2 separate regions of the Homo sapiens genome follow, and region 1 is linked to region 2. The links come from fine-mapping of genetic effects on gene expression. Tissue or cell type: blood mononuclear cells. Region 2 holds a variant in brackets; the other region holds the start of a gene. All regions are shown on one strand. Distances are from middle to middle.

What was found. PIP is the estimated chance that this variant, and not a neighbour inherited with it, causes the effect.
Region 1: it holds the start of CREB5, and the variant in region 2 is fine-mapped to the expression of CREB5 in blood mononuclear cells (TOPMed, PIP above 0.99). The same link has a PIP of 0.9 or more in monocytes.

What each region holds. Positions count from the first base shown.
Region 1 is chr7:28,408,046-28,416,150 of GRCh38, forward strand. CREB5 (cAMP responsive element binding protein 5) reads left to right here and starts at 4,473. Exons shown (of 11, transcript NM_182898.4): 1 at 4,473-4,872. The coding sequence starts at 4,870. RefSeq lists silencers at 865-1,159, 1,128-1,197 and an enhancer at 4,470-4,559.
Region 2 is chr7:28,680,078-28,688,182 of GRCh38, forward strand. All of the region lies in intron 5 of CREB5 (cAMP responsive element binding protein 5), which reads left to right. Among named protein-coding and RNA genes, the nearest start is that of CREB5, 270 kb to the left of the region's middle. RefSeq lists enhancers at 5,076-5,125, 5,342-5,850 and a silencer at 5,234-5,403. The variant C/T (reference allele first, on the strand shown) is at 4,797.

The DNA of each region.
Region 1 (8,105 bases), 270 kb before region 2:
TAACCCACAAGAAGGGAATGCTTACCCCTGGCTCTATGAAGGAGCCCAGTTGGGATCTGGGCTTGAAAACAGGGATTGAGTTGGGCCCAGTGCCACCCCTTGCTCATCAAGTGATCTCAGGCCAGCCCCCAACCTTCTGGTGTCTGCCTTAGCTCACCTGTAGAATGGGAATAATTATAATACCTGTCCTACTTCTGGTACCCGGGTTGGTGTGAGAAACAAGGGAAATCACGTGGTCGCAAGCGCTTTGTAAGGTGTGAGGGGCTGCGAGGTTGGCATTGGTCGTCTAGAATCGGGCTGGATTTAGCCTATGCCTTCTCTTTGAATCCTACTCAAAGGGAGAACTTCTGAAAGGAAATTCAGCAGGGGGATGGTGACAGTGATGGTGACGGCCGGATACTGGAGACGCCAGGCTCCTCTCGCTGCAGACCAGGCGCCCGGATCCTGCAGTCTGGCCCTGGCTCTGCCGCTCCCCAGCCCGTGAGCTTGGGCCAGTTACCGAAGAGGCTCTGGAAGTGACAGCCAAGGGCCCTTTCGGCTCTGACGCCGTGTCTAAATCAGGCTCATCACTTGGCTCTAGCTGTGATTCACCTTTCGCCTTAGGAGCAACTCTCCCTACAGCTTCTCAGACGCATGAAGCAGGGGTCCCGCGAAGGGTGGGGCTGTGTATTTCATGAGAGTGTGCACCATAAGGAAGTTATTCTCCTGGAGGAGGTGAGATGAGGGGGCGGTGAAGAAGGGGTGACAAGTGAGTGCTCTGAAAAGCCAGGATGCAGGGAGCACTGAAATGAGGTCATGACTGTCGCAAGCAAAAAGGAGCTGGACATCCTCCGGTGGGGGAGGGAGGAGCGTCCTGCATTTCTGTTTGCAAAGTCTTTTCCCACATCCTTCAGCATCCCCCTCCCCACCTCTCCCCTACCCCCATCCCTACACCTTTCAAACCCCATCAGGCCCTCCCCGCAGAAGAGCCCACGCCCGCGCCTCCTCCGTGGTCTTGTCTGAAACCATAAGGATTGTTTCCAAGCTGACTCACACCACTAATGTCAGGGAGCCGTGTCACACGGCGCTGGGCTCTGCAAGCTGTTGCTTGCGCAGTCGCCCCCGCCGCTGCCGCTCCCGGGCGGGTGCACCAGGGTCCGCGCGGGCGGGGCGGGGTCGGGGCGGGACCGGGGCGGGGCCTGCCCCCTCGACGCGCCGGCCCCGCCCCTCGCTCCGTCCCTCCCCAGCGGACCGCAATGATTTAGAAGTTCAGGAATCCCACGTGACGTCACCGGGGGGGTGATGTAATGCACTCTAAATAGAATGTATTGTAATCTTTGCTCAGTCCAACGTGGTCCCTTCACCCGGGCTCCGCTCTTGCCTTCTCCACACTTGTTTGGTAAGTTCCTAAAAATACGGCTCGGCCACTTCTGGGGCTTTTGCATTTAGCCACTTTTGTTGCACTTGCCGCAGGAGCCATCTCGGGAGTGTACTTGTTTGCAGGGGTTGGTTCTCGGCAGCAGCCGCGAGGTTACTTGGTCCAGTGGGCAGGTCACAGGGCAAGGAGTAGGGAAGATGCGATGCATTTTTTTCTGGAGGGTGATCTGTGTTTGTAAACATTTTGGCGGACCAGAGGGAAGTCCGGCCCCGAGTGCTGGTAGACTGTGGAATTCGGCTGTGTCCTGAGGCCACCCTAGAGACCCCGCGCCGCGTGAGTGCCGGAGCGCTCGGTGGCCGCCGCGCCGCGCGCCTGGAGGGATGCTAACGTGGAGCCGGCGCCGAGTCCGCCCGGCGTGCGTGCGTGTGTGGGAGCGCGCGAGTCCCCTGACGCGGGGACCAGTTATGAATCGGGGGTGTGTGTTTGCCTCCAGAGACCTGGCAAGGTGCGGAGCCCTCCAGAAGTGCGGTCAAGCGGCAGCGGAGACGGCGAGCCAGGAACCTCCCCCCGCGTCCCCAGCTTCCCAGCGTGGCGGCGGAACCCCCGGAGAAAGTTTGCAAACTTCCAGCGGGCGCGGCGAGGACGCCGGGTCACCTAGGGGGCGGGTGGGCGCGCGCGCAGGGGGCTCGCTCTCCCCGGTGCGGAGCTGCAGCTGCCACCTCTCCCGCCGGGCTGCCGGCTGCAGCGGGTGGGCGCGCGCCCGGGGAGGGGAGGTCGCCCTCGGAGGGCGCTTGGCTTTCGCTCCAGGCGCTCCGGGCTGGAGAGCGGCGAGGCTCCGTCCGCTCCAGTCCACTCCTCCGGCCGCCTCCTGCCTCCGCTGCTTTCTTGCTGGCATCGTTACCTCTTCCCGGCCGCTGCCCCAAATGACAGCTCCGGCTCGAGCTTTGGCGGCGCCCAGGCAATTCCCAAGACCTGGCGGCGGAGTCTCCCCCTGCGGCAGATTCTCGGCAGAATCACTTGAACTTTTCACGAAGTTCTTAGAGGGGCAAGATGCGAAGGAAGGAACCAAGGAGATGTTTTCTCTCAGCAGCTGCATCCCGCTTCTTCTTTGCCATAGATTTATTTTTAAGGGGCGTCTGGTAGATAAAGCCCTAGACCTTGTCCACACTCTCACCCCCATCCCCAACTTTCCCTGGACCGGTGCCGCCCCCACTTGATGCTTGCTCAAGGCCGGGGACTGGAGCGGGCTACTTGTATATTTCGTTGTCAGTCTGCAGAATGTGTTTGATTTTTATTTTTCCCTCCTTCTCTGACATGTGTCAAGGAATAAAGACTGGATACAGGTCCATTACGTCATTCTGCAGGCCAGTAAGTGTTTGATTAACGGCTTGAGCTCCTCAAGGGTTCAGGAGCTTAGAATGCTGACAAAGCAACTCTGCTTTGCATCCCCCTACCCTCCCCACAACACACTCGTGCAATCGCCGGCTCCCTGGGCATCTTTATTGCCCTCTCTTCCCAGCCCCTCCCTCTCCACCACTCCCCCGTCTACACCGTTATCACTCTAGCCCCGCCCCCGCCTTTTTACAGCTTTCCCTGGGGCGAGCACGGTCCCTGGAGTGTGGGTAAAAGCTTCTGGGGTCTGAGGGGACCACTGTACCTGATCAGCGCGCAATCCGCCCTTTTGTATTATTTAAGAAAGGCACCAGTAAGCCTTCTCCTCTAGGGCGAAAATGCTTAGTCCTGATAGAAAAGGCAAATCAGGAAATGTTTGCAAGCGTTATGATAATACTCTGTCCTCGTGGTGGTGACTTAGGAAAGCAATACACCCACTGCAAACAAAGTATTTCACTTTACGTAGTGCCTGCCCTTTAGCAGAAGAGGGATGCTGACAAAATCAGGTTTAGCTGAAAGGATCAAGACTAAACGTTTCATTTCCAAAGTGAGGGAATGTGAGTCGTTGAACCTAAACTTCCATACAATAAATTGCTGCGTGCGTTAGTTTCTAGCTCTTAACCTTAAGTTTCTATGTTGAAAGAGGAAGTCGAATACGTAAGTCATTGAACTGAGTCAGAACCTCCGTATCTGGCAGTTGAAATAAAGACCCTGTGTATGACTTGTTGCAAGGGATCAAAGTAAAAAGAACCCTCGGTGTGGGGGGTGGGGGGGTGGGGGCGTGAGGGAGGTGTGCAGCAGAAATTAAATTTAAAAAAGTATTAACAGAGTTTTGGATAGAGGGAGAGAGGGGATTGGAGTGGTCCCTGATTTGGAGTTGGTGAAAACTAAATAAAGAAAAGTTTATATTGCAAATATGTGGGAATTTCTTGAAGAACACATGTTTTCTTATAATTAGATCTACTTTCTTCAAAGCGAAAGCCATGCTGTAGGGTAGGCATTTGTGAAACTCCTGTCTGGGGTCTAATTGACATCCTTCCCCAAGTCTGTGGCAGGATTTAGTATTTATTCACATCTAGAGATGAAATAGTGTAACCTCCACACAATATATGTGCATCGAAAATGTTGAACTTCTTGTTTGTGATGCATAGACTTAAAGGAAAAAAAATGGCCCAGTCATGGGCACTGGAAAGTGTGATTAATGATCAGTGATTTAGTGATCAGTGATTAGTGGTTTTATTCAAACTGTTACCTCTGACCAGAAGCACACATCAGAGGATTAACAGGCTCTTTAGATAAATGCTCATTAGTGGAAGGGGAAAAGCAAAGATAATAGGCATGCACCCAGGGACAACTTTCGAAGAAAATCATTCCCGTCTTCAGAATAATAAGCTCTATTAACAGAAAGCCCTTTTAATTTAAAACTTGCTTTTATCTTGTAAATCAAAGTTAGATGTAAAAGTTTGTAGTGCCATTATAACCTAAATTTTCCCATATCCACTAGATGTGGATTATCTCAGTAGCGATATTTTTTTTTATTTAAACAAACAATTGGACCTTTAGAGCAGCTGAACCCTGACAAGTTCTTAACTCCCAGGGTTTGAAAGTGTCCCCCCTTCTAGCATGGAGATTGCAGCTTGCTAACTAGATGGCGCACTGTTATTTGGTGTTCTCTGCTGCGTAGCGCAGGAGTATAAACTGAGCATGTAGCTGCTTGCGAGGTGTTCTTCAACATTTACAACAAAGTTGATTCTGTGTAGGGTTGGAGGCTAGACAGTTCCACAAATTTTTAGTCACATTTTCCATGTCAGTTAAATCTAGGGAGTTCAAGACTACTGGAAAAATTAGTCTCATTACTAAAAGAAACTTAGAGAACGAGGGAGGTACCAGAGTCTAGGAGGTACCTCTGGGTTGCAGAAGTAATTGTAAAATACCAGACCTGTTCTTTTTACTAAAAGCTAGTTTCACTATCTTCTGGTCTGAAATACTGAGGCAAATACTCAAGACTTATTTTCTTCCTAATCTTGCTGGTGAAACAGAAGTTACTAGAAAGAAAGGAAGAAAAAACTTGATTTGGTGACTGCAGGAAGCAACACGTTGCTGCTTTTATTCTACAGATAATGGTAAGGATGATGTTTATTATGCATATTAAACAGAGAGAAAACTTTGCACTTAGTTAAATAGAACCAATGTTGTATTTTCATAGATGGAATTCAGAAATGGAGTTTAGATTTTGCACAAAATTTTAATGTTGCTTTTGTCAGTTTCCTGGGACTTATAGCATTTTATGTGGAAGGATGTGTGTGTGTGTGTGTGTGTGTGTGTGTGTGTGAATAAGACTATTATTTCCCAGGTAAAATATGTTCAGAAGCATATGAACTACAGTGGGGAAGCTATGGAGCATGTTAAGTAATGTGTCAAGCATGAATTCCCCTTTCTGTGAGGTTTCATGAATCACTTCAATAAGTATTTAAGTTTTAATAAGAAAGTTCTTGAAAAAGAAACCTAAAAATTAAAAAAAAACAATAAAACAGTTTTCCGCATTCAAACCTAGATGTGTATGCCCCTGAAGGATGATTCTATGGGTTGAATATCAACTATTACTTTAGTTCTAAAACTTAAAAGAAGAAGTATAATAAAACTCACTTGTGTCTCCCCAGAAATGTTTCTCATTTTCCTTTGCTTATAGCATTTTATATGGATCTCTTATTTTTAAATCCTTACTGATTATAGTGGTTTTTATTTTTCAACTTAACTCATAGTAAACATATTTGAAAATATCTCCAAGCCCACTATTTTTAATGTAAATTGCTGGTGCCGATAAATTGCCTGTCAATTAGCGGTCAGTCGTGACCTTATATAGTTGATACCTGAGAAGATAGTTTATTAGAACATTCCAACAAAAAATTGGAAACCATGCCCTTATTTCTAGATCTCTGTTATGTCACAGCTTTTATTTGAATAGGTGGCTAAATGAATGGTAGTTTGTCACAGAGACTTTTCCTGCATAGATTTTCAATTCTAGTAAGTTTAAGATTTTTGTTACAATGATTTGTCAGTTTCCCACACCTGCACATTCAAAACCAATCAATCATGGAGTTTCCATGATGGCAAGTTCCTAGACTCCCAATTTCTTACTATAATCTACTTTTTAGCAATGAGGTATCACAATCCTATAATATTTTCTTGTCATTGGAGTTTACTTCTTACTAAGCTAAAAATTATTTTGTCGGTGTGTAGTGTTCACTAGATCACTAAGATGTGAACTTTGTATTTGTAGTTCATTTTCTTCTGGTTATGTTGTTGGATTAAAATTGGGATTTGAGTGGACTTATTATTTTTGTCATCTTTTCTTTCTTCTCCTTCTCCTTCTCCTTCTTCTTCTTCTAAGCAATGCAGTTAGTCACAAAATTAATGTGATCCTGGCTGGTGTTTCCCATCTATATGCTTCTTTTGCTTCTTACAAATTGGATTTCTACAGCAATTTAAGGTCTTTTTTTTTTTTAGAGGCAGCTTTCTTGGATGAAGATGGAACAGTGATCTCAGTCAATTCATTATCTTGTCCACTTTGACTACCAGCTGTATTATGGGAATCAACCAATGCTTAATTAGTGTTTAAAAATTTAAATCTATGACTATTTCTCTGAATTCTATTTAAGAAAATTATACAATTGAGATAAGGTAATAAACTGGGGGGCAATTGCCTTAAATATCTAAGTGTGAGGAAGAAGCACTTTCAGATATGCTAAACAGACTTAAAGACACAGAAGACCCTTTTTGTGTTGCTATTTGTAAAATAAGTAAGCTATCTATTTTGTGGCAATGCTTTAAATACAAAGTCTGGCACTTTAAAAATGACATCATGTTTAATGTTTTCACTAAAGAATTATTACATTTCGTAATTAGGAAAAAAATGAGCAATTAGTGTTTTTTGAGTATCCATTAGTATTCCATTGTTGAGAATCACAAATCATAGATTTAACATAGGAATTTTTTTTTTTATAAAAAGAGAGAAGCCTTTTAGAAATTTCCAGATAGTGATAGCACTCTTCCAGAAACCCCACTAAAATTTTTGAAGCTCTTATTGAGGACTCTGGGACTGTCACAGTAAAAGATAAAGTTTAGGATAAATTCTTGAACCCATAAAAGATATTATATTGACATTTCAATATTTCTTTTTTCCAAGTTCACTGTATTGCCTTCCCCCTCACCCCCTGAGAAATAGATCAGAATCAGTTTATCACTTTAAAAATATGTATTTCAGCTGCTTTCTTCTATTTCCTTAAGGTTACATTTCTGATCTTAACCCTAAAAAGATTTTAGGATTTCAATCCTTAACAAGGATTGAAAACTACCAGGCTGGCGTTTGACTAGAACTGATTTTAGAGGGAGTTCTTTTAGGCCTAGAGATTCTGATGGTGAGTTACAAAGGCTTATGGCTTTACACGGATGGTAGGGCTAGGGGAGGGCCTCGGATTGATAGACCAATTTTTCATTTTACAGAAGAGACCCCTGGCTCACCCAAGGCCCAGAGCTAGAGAGAGCCAAACCAGGCTGAGAAGCCTGGTCCCTGCCTCCAGGTCGGGTGCTCCTGCCATAAATGCCCTTGTCAGGAATGGGGCATAACCTATGACTTTGTATCCTTCACTCTTTTCAAGCCTTTTGATGACTAATCTTTCAAAGACAAATTTTTATCAGATCTTTGGAATGAACACCTTAATCATAAAAACTGTAGTTTCTATTTCATTCATTCTTATATAATATCTGCAATGTTATTTTTTCTAATAAGGGCCTCCTTAATTAATTTTAACTTAAATTCTCCTTTTTTCATCATTGTTATGAGACATACCCTGTAAAACCACACCATCCAGATTTCATTTGAGAGTAAAAACCAGGCAGGACTAAAAATGGTCTGAAAGACTGTCTCAAGAACAAGGCAGTGACTTTCTCTACTACCTGTCTTTTCTCTATTATCTGTGAGGACGGGATCTGAAATATTATTTAAAGTTAAAATAAATAACCTTTTTTGTCAAATAGAGAAACGGGTGATGTTTTCACTCTAGAAGGTGTACCTTTGCCTAGGATCTGTCTGTAATACATTATCTTTCCAGATGGATATATATGAGTGTGTTTGGAGGTGACGAGAAGTGAATTGAGTCTGGAAGTATGTTCTTTGAGGTTTGACTGGCAAAACTTGACCAATCATAACCAAAAAAATTCATGCATGCAACACAGAGGGCTCTAGAGCACCACACATTTGATTTAAGATGATATTTAGTCTGTGCTGTATTTAAGATGGGGAATAACAATGTCTAAATAGAAATCCTGAATGCACCTACTGCATGTGTTGTTTGGC
Region 2 (8,105 bases):
ACATTTAAGGGGGCAATTATTCTCAGGGTTGGACAATTGCAGACCTGCACCTGAGAGTGAGTACCTCCTTAAATTTTGCACCCTAGGCACCTCACTTGCTTCAACCTGGACTGGTCCAGTCACCACCCTTGGTCAAAGGGGAAAGTAGGAATTTGGTTGATAATCTCCTTTAACCAAGGTTCCCCACAGAGCCTCCAGGAAAGGCCTCTTTCTTGGACATCATCAGTTGGGTTGTCCACCTCTCCCAAGCATAACTGCTCTGAGCCAGTCTTGATCAGCTACTATGCCTTGTCTTGGCTCCACTCAACACCAGAACATGAATCAGTGTAGTTAGTCTGACAACATCATTAGGCTCCAATCCCGTATAAACTTTTACCCACAAAAGTTTGGACCTCCTTGGCCGAGCACTATGGCTCACACCTGTAATCCCAGCACTTTGGAAGGCCAAGCTGGGAAGATCACTTGGGTCCAAGAGTTCAAGACCAGCCCAGGCAACATAGGGAGACTTTGTCTCTACAAAATGTAAACAAAATTAGCCAAGCATGGTGGTGCACACCTGTAGTTCCAGCTACTCAGAAGGCCGAGGTGGGGGAATCATTTGAGCCCAGGAGGTCAAGGCTACAGTGAACTGAAATCATGCCACTGCACTCCAGCCTAGGCAACAGAACAAGACACTGTATCAACCTATCTCAAAAAAAAAAAAAAAAAATTGGACCTCCTGTTCCCCCACCATTATTTGAGTTCTTCCTGTAGTGCCCACTCTAGTCATAGAGATTGGTTAGAACTGACATCACCTTTCTTTGGACATGATAAAGTCCTGGTGGCAGTGTCTCCTTTTTTAGGGCACCTCAACAACTGTGCAAGAAGTCCCAACAGGAGAATATTTAGCTGCTCTCACCTCAAGTTCCAATTTCCCTGGGTGCCTCATGTAGGAAGCTGGTGACAATAGTCTAGGATCAGCTGCTCTGACATCCACCACAGAGTGCTCATTCTGCCATCCCTGCTGTGGGGGTCCAAAAAAAGGGAGCAAGAGGAATCTGAGGCCCTCCAGGGAGAAAAGGTATAGTGTAGGGATGGAGAAGGCTGACTAGTAGATTTCCTAGGATTTTCTTATTATAGGTTTTCTAGATGCTTCAGATCTTTAGGAAGCTGCATAAAAAGTGTGAGCAATAATACAAACAGGAAAAAGAACTTTCAGGAGGCAACATATTCAGGGAAGACCGAGCAGCCTGTGTTGCCGCTAGTTCAGGCTCAGTTACATTTCTTTTTCTTTAATTAATTTATTACTATTATTATCATTATCATTATTAGAGACAGAATCTTGCTCTGTCTCCCAGCCTGGAGTGCAGTGGTGCGATCATGCCTCACTGTAGTCTTGAACTCCTGGGCTCAAGTGATCCTCCACCTCAGCCCCAGTAGCAGGACTATAGATGTATGCCACCACGCCCAGTCCCAGTCACATTTCTTAGGGACCTACTATGTATGGGCCAGGTGCTAGGTGCTAGGGAAATGAAGATGTATAGCACAGTCTCTGCCCTGGAGAAGCAAATGGCTGCTGAAGAAGACAAGCATGAAGAGATCCTCTCCATAGCTGGCTTATTGCTGGGATACAATCTGCTTCAGGACGCCAAAGGAGCACAGAGTAATGGCCACCCTTATCCCAGTCTGGTAGCCCAGCAAGGAGACCATGGAAAAGATAATGCCTGAGCTGAGGATTGTATTCATTCATTCACTCATTCATTTATTCAACAAATATTCCAGGAGTGTCAACGGTCTTTCAGACATTGGTTTAGGTTTAAGTGGTACAATGACTTGCACATTTTAAGAAGTTAGAGAAAAAACACTATAGGAAGCAGAATTGATGACAATATTTTAGGGCTAATCAAATGGCTCTTGTGACCTCTTAATATCCACCCCCAAAGGTTTCCTGATGCCTCCACCATTATAAATTCATTCCTTTGTTTGAGACACATTCAGCATTGCCACATCCGTGAATTACAAATAGGTTTTGACACAGGAAAGGCCAGTGAATTGCCTAAGGGTACTTAGTGCCAGGGTTGGGGTATAGGAGGTGCAGTAGTTACACGACAGGAGTCACCAAGGGCAGATCACTCCCTTGTCTTCTCTCTGGGAGCACCTGGAGCTGACTTCAGCAGGGCTGACAATTTAAGCCAGTGAATCCTGCCTGCACATGGTTCAGGATGCATGCTGCACCAGGTCACCTAGGCGGCCCCTCATCCTCTGTCCACTGTGAAAACACGGGACACCCAGGTCGAAGGGAATGCTGAATGACACCATGTGGGTGTGCAGTGGTCTGTGACCAGAGGGTTCACTGGAAGCAATTTGCAAAGGAGGACTTAGAAAACCACCTGGATGGTTATTGTAAATTAAAAAAGGAAGAGATGCCACTTTTTTCTGAATAATTTTTAATACTAGGTTTATGGCTGGGTACATGTGATAGTCATTACAGCTTATTTAACTCTGAAATTATCTGGCCCCTCAAACTCCACCGGGACTGTAGAAATCTTGGGTTAAATTTTAAAAACAACATTTGAAAGAAGATGATATACTTTTCCTTGAGGAGAATAAATTCAAACCTAAAAGTGGGGGGGGGGGGAAACCCCAGCTCTCTCTAGGAAGGATCTCCATTGTTTCTCATATTTGCTATGTTTCTCATAACGTGTTTGAGCTCAGAAATTCACCCAGGCACACAAAAGGTCTACTCTAGTTGGCTGTTGAGCCCCTCCATCCCTGCAATCCAAGTTGTGCCTTTTCTATTGGGTTATTTGGAAAGAGTCCAAAAGCATTCTGAACTCTGAGCTCAAATCTCAAAGGTTTCCACTTCTTCGGAGCCGAACATTTCATCAGGGGCTGGGAGTGTGTGAGTGAGTTACACCGAACAGCTGCGCGGTACCCACCACCCTCTCCCCAAGGATGACACGCTCTGCAAAGGAGGGTGTTGTAAGCATTCCTGAGCAAGCCAGCTAATCTGGAGACCTAGCCTGTTGGCCGGGGGCTACTTCTAAGAAGCCTCCCTCTGGAATTACAGCATCTTATGACTTCTATCTACGAAGCCCCCCTTCTTCAGAGGAGCAGCTAGGACATGGGGTAGGGGAGAAGGCCAAATGGGTGAAAAAGGAATCTCTTGAGTCAGAGGGGCATTTCTTTTTGGGAACAGGATCTTGTCTCTCTTTAGCTGCTCACAGGAAGGAAAATGGGAAAGTAGGGCTTCTTTTCAAGTGGGGAGGCACCCAGCAGCCAGTGGAATGCCTGATTTGGAAGGGGCAGGAGGGAATAGTTATGTCCCGAACAACAAGTGCAAATGTAAATATGCAGACCTTTGAACTCTGAAATTGATTTCAATTCAGGCCAGCACTCCAAAGTTGTTTTATTGGGATGTCGAAGTGTTCTGGCACGTTGGTGGCTTAACGGCGTCATCATCAGACCCAGACATTTCTGGGTCCTTGGCATTTGTCTGGGTTTTAGAAACACTGTACCCATTGGCGATGTCACTCCCTGATCAGAGGCACACTGGCCACCTTCAAACCTCTTGTTCTCTTACTCCTCCTGGCAGAAGCAATGATGCTGGCGGGTCTCATCTGAGATCCGTGCCCGGCATTGGCTGAAGCTATCATCTCCTTTGTTACTTCCCAAGCAAGGCACAGGAAAGCCATCTTTACATCACCTCTATTTAAAGCACAGGGTCCCTTTTGCCTATGTCACTGAAAAACAGCAGAAGCCTGGTATCTAGTGGATTCACCCCGGCCCTCTAATGTGGTATAAGGAAAATCCTACAGAGAACATTTTCCCATTGAGCTTACAAAAAGATGTAAATTTGGAAAACTCTACCACATATCCATTTTGCACCAAAAATAGTAACATAAATAAAACATTTAAATAAGAAAACTAAAGTGGGGAGGGGAGATTTGGGGGGTAGGGAAGGGAAAGTGAAAGTCCATAGCTTGATATTAACCAAGATGGTCAATGGCTCATTTAAAAAGGAAAAAGTAGCTTATGCAAAATCTTGCCAACCTGCCTTGAAGTGTAAAGGCTTGTAGAAGTTATTGAAAATTTTGTTTTATTTATTCCCCTTAGCAGAAGAAAAATCAATGTCTGCTTGGCAAGTCAGACGTAAATGAGTTATACAGGCCACTGACATGGTGGACCAAACTTTATAACAACCACATTTGCCGCTGTCAGGCCACAGGCTTCAGTGGCGCCAGCTGTAATTATGGCTGATCACCTCTAATTCAGAGCTGCCTGCCTTGATAAAGGTGTCACTCGGAGCTACTGTGGCATCAGCATCAATTGAGGATGTCAAGCCAAAGGGCAGCTTGCTGGAGAAAGCACTTCCCCACCCCAACCCCCAGGGTCCTGGAGACCCTTGGGCAAATATTGCTTTTTAACTCTTCACCCTGAGTACGGCAACACTCCCTGAAGCTGTGATTTAAATTCCAGGGGATTCAGATGAATATCCCTGACCTCCATCAGTGGACGTCTTTAATAAGCTGAGAGATTTCTCCAAAAACACAGTTTAGAAGTCAAGATCCTCTGTGCTTTGCAACGTGCAGAGACAATGTTTGTCTTATCTACCTGATTCATTGGCCACAAAAGGCATTAGGGGCAATAGACTGTAGCACAAGCCATGGTCATTTTTGGAAAAGGAAAAAAAAATTGCAGCTTCATGCCTTTCTTCTGCTTTTGTGGTATTTAAAAAAAATTCTAGCGAACTTCCCATTTTCATGTTACTTTTTTCTTTTTGAAGGAAACATGAAGTGTGGGGAGAAATAGCAAAA[C/T]GGAGAGATGATGGGGTTAAAAAGCCCTGCTAATAGAGTAGTGTCTGGACTGTTGTCATTGTCGTGGTGGAGCCCTGAGTGGGGAGGTGTGAAGTGAGGGGTAGAATTCAGCCATTAAAAAGGCTTCACTGTCATTTGTGAAGGATCATGCTTGACTGCCCCCACCTCCCCAGGCTGTTTTTCCTCACTCTGTAATTAAAAAAGAGACACACATACTGTCTGTTCTCCTCTTTAAAGTCACAGACGGCCCCACCCACACCAGCACCCCCTCCAGCGAGTTGAGTTGTGGGGGCACAGCCTGTCTTTCATTTTAAGGGAGAACTTGTCTTCCTTCCCTCTCCTTTGGAAGGTTCACCTGAGGGTGGAGTGCTAATCTCAGAAAGGCAAGTTTTGTGTTTTGTGGCTGGGGTCTTTTTCCTTTAGCACCTGACAGGGTGACCCATAGGGGCCAAGGGAGAAGTGACTGTGATTTCACAGCCCTTGGTGGCTCCAGACACGGGCACGTGTTTGGACCAGAAGTGGTTTTGCCCTCGCTGACAGGGAGGTCAGATGCGAGAAGTCTCCGGAGGGCTGGTGGTTGGCATTCAGCAACAGAAAATCCCATCCAGCTCCAGGAAAAAAGGGCCCTGGGCGATGGAAACCCTGTCACCTGGTTCTGAACCAAAGCCCAAGCTGCTAACTGAGGTTAGTTTTTCACACTCAGACCTTCCAACCTGCCATCTTTCACTCCCTGCTTCCCCATCTCTACACGTGTCTTGATGTTATTTCCCTTTCTCCAAACACAGGGCACTCTTTTTTTTTTTTTTTTTTAACCAGTATTTTTTTTTTGTTTCCAGCAGAACCAGCTGACCCCTGCCTGCAGAACTCCGGGTCCCTCTTGGAGCTCTCTGATGGCAGCTGTAGGGCCATCCCCAGCGGCACTGTTTCCCCCTTTGTTTACCCGTTTCTAAGGGCAAGTGCACCACGAAGGCTCTCCGAGCCTGGAACTCAGCCTGGGGCTGTTTTGGTTACATTGAAGTTTTTGCTTCAGTTCTGCCAGATTTAAGTGGTGACTTCACTAGCACTGAGCTAAAAAGGAGAAGGGGGAGGAGGGCGAGACCAGGAGAAAGAGAGCAAGTGAGCGAGAGCCCAGCCGGAGGGAGAGCCAGAGCTAGGCGCAAAAGAAGGGCCAGCACATTACATCATCGCTTGGCCTGGAATCAAATGGGAAGGATATGACTCACTCAAGCTAGTTAAGCTTTGGCTCAAATTCTACACACACTCATTCCAGAGCTCTCATGTTCTGCACCTCAGGAGGGAATTCAGCCTCAGTGATGTCCATGAGGTTTGTTTTTAATTTTATTTTCTTTTCTCCTGATTTTATAGATTTTTTTTGCCCCTACTGCCTTCTGTTTTTGAGCCTTCGTCCTCCTCCTCCTCCTCTTCATTTTCTCCCCCTTCTCCCTTTCTGCCCGTCTTTGTTTCTCCTCTTCTTCCTTCTCCTCTTTCCCCAGCCCCTCCGCTCCTCTTCTTGCCCGAAGAGGCATTTCTTTTCACTTCGATCAGAGTTTTTGTTCTAGCACAGAGACCTGAATGAGTTGAACAGAGGCCGGGTTGGAGGAAAAAAGAAAAAAAAAAAAAAGCAGAGCAAACCAAAGCAACCAGAGCAAAAGGGCCACAAATAAAGAGCGAAGCGAGAAAGAGCAAACTCGGGCGAAGTTTCTTTGCTGCGGTGTCGCTCCTAATCGGAGGAGACAGGGAGAGAGTTAAAATGCAGGAACCAATCGCTTGAATGGTGATGTAATGCAAGAACCGAAGGGTAGTTAAGTAATGTGAGAGCGAGGGGGTCAGGGTTGCAAAGCATTTACCTGCTCTCAAGGGGTTTTCAGTTTATTATCAATTGCAGTGACTGTAACCGGCTTCAGACTGCAATCTCTAATTATTCACAGACGCTCCTTTTTTATCTTTTATTATTAAAAGTAAAACTATATTATGGTATTTTAAAATAACACGATATTATCACAGCTGTGTATTATTTTCTGCCAGGATTCTCTCTCTCTGTTTTTTAAATGGCTTAAAACTGTTGTCTTTTCATAAAAGGTGGAAGTGATGGTGTGGTGGTTGGTTGGGGGGTTGGGGGGGCGATTTTTGAGTGTAACTGGTGAATTGTAAATGACTGGAAAACTGTGTGTTGTATGAAAAGTGAATGATTGTGCTGTTCCATTTATTATTAAGAATATACTGCAGCTTTTAAAAGTAATAGATGATGATCCTCAAAAGTAGTTATAGCCTTTCCCCTATTATTTCAGTGAAGGTTAACAGCAATTGTGCATTTGCTTGAGCATGTTGACATTCTGTTGTTCCACGTGCTAATTAATCCGGTGCTATCTTTAAGACTTTTATGTTCTTGAATTAATTTTTTAGATGATATGCTTCAGTAGTGAGGGGGCGATGATGAAGACTTCTTGATTGAGTTGTCTTAGAAACAGTTAATATTTCAGAGTAAGAAATTAACAGGAAATACAGGGAGAGGGGGCAAAGGATTGTGTTCTTAATGTTTTAAGGATCTCGTGTACTCAGAGAGAGAGACTTTGATGTTTTGAAAATTATTACCACATTTCTGTTTCATAGAATAGATTTCGTATTGTGATATGCTGCCTGAGTTGGGTGCTTTCTGACACCATCCGGCATTACTAGATAGTAATAAACTGAAACCCACTAAAACAAGAGGGCAAACACTTTCTCATTCTGGGAACTTCAAAACTTCTCTTGGGCTTATTTAGACGTGATCATCCTACAGCTGGATGCATATTGAGGCATGCGGCACATACCAGAAAGGTGTCTATTTATTTAACGCATGTTTTGGATATCATTCATTATGACTTTATGGATCTTCTCTCTTTCCTCCTTTTTTGGGCAGAGGTGGAAGTGGGGAGCAGAGGGGAGAAGTAATTTTTGGAGGAAGTAGCATGATGTGTGAGGAGGCCTGAGTGTTGATTCTGATGCTTGACCTTGAGCAAATCACTTAAACCATCTGGGCACTACTCTAAAGAGCAGGAAAGGGCAAGGTGGGCTAGAAGCTCCTCCCCGCATGGGGAACCAATCTTAGATGATCTCTGGAGTCTCTTTCCACTCGAAAGTTCTATGTTTATATCCATGTTCTATACAAAAGTTTGCTACAGAGTATTTAGCATAGCTTTTCAGAGAAAAGTACATTTGAAATTCAGGATGAATTAGTACTTGAAATGAATGGGGGAGGATGGACAGGAGTATATCTTTCCCCACTTTGAAGTTTGATCTTTATTTGTTTACTTCTTGCTTTTTGGCAAA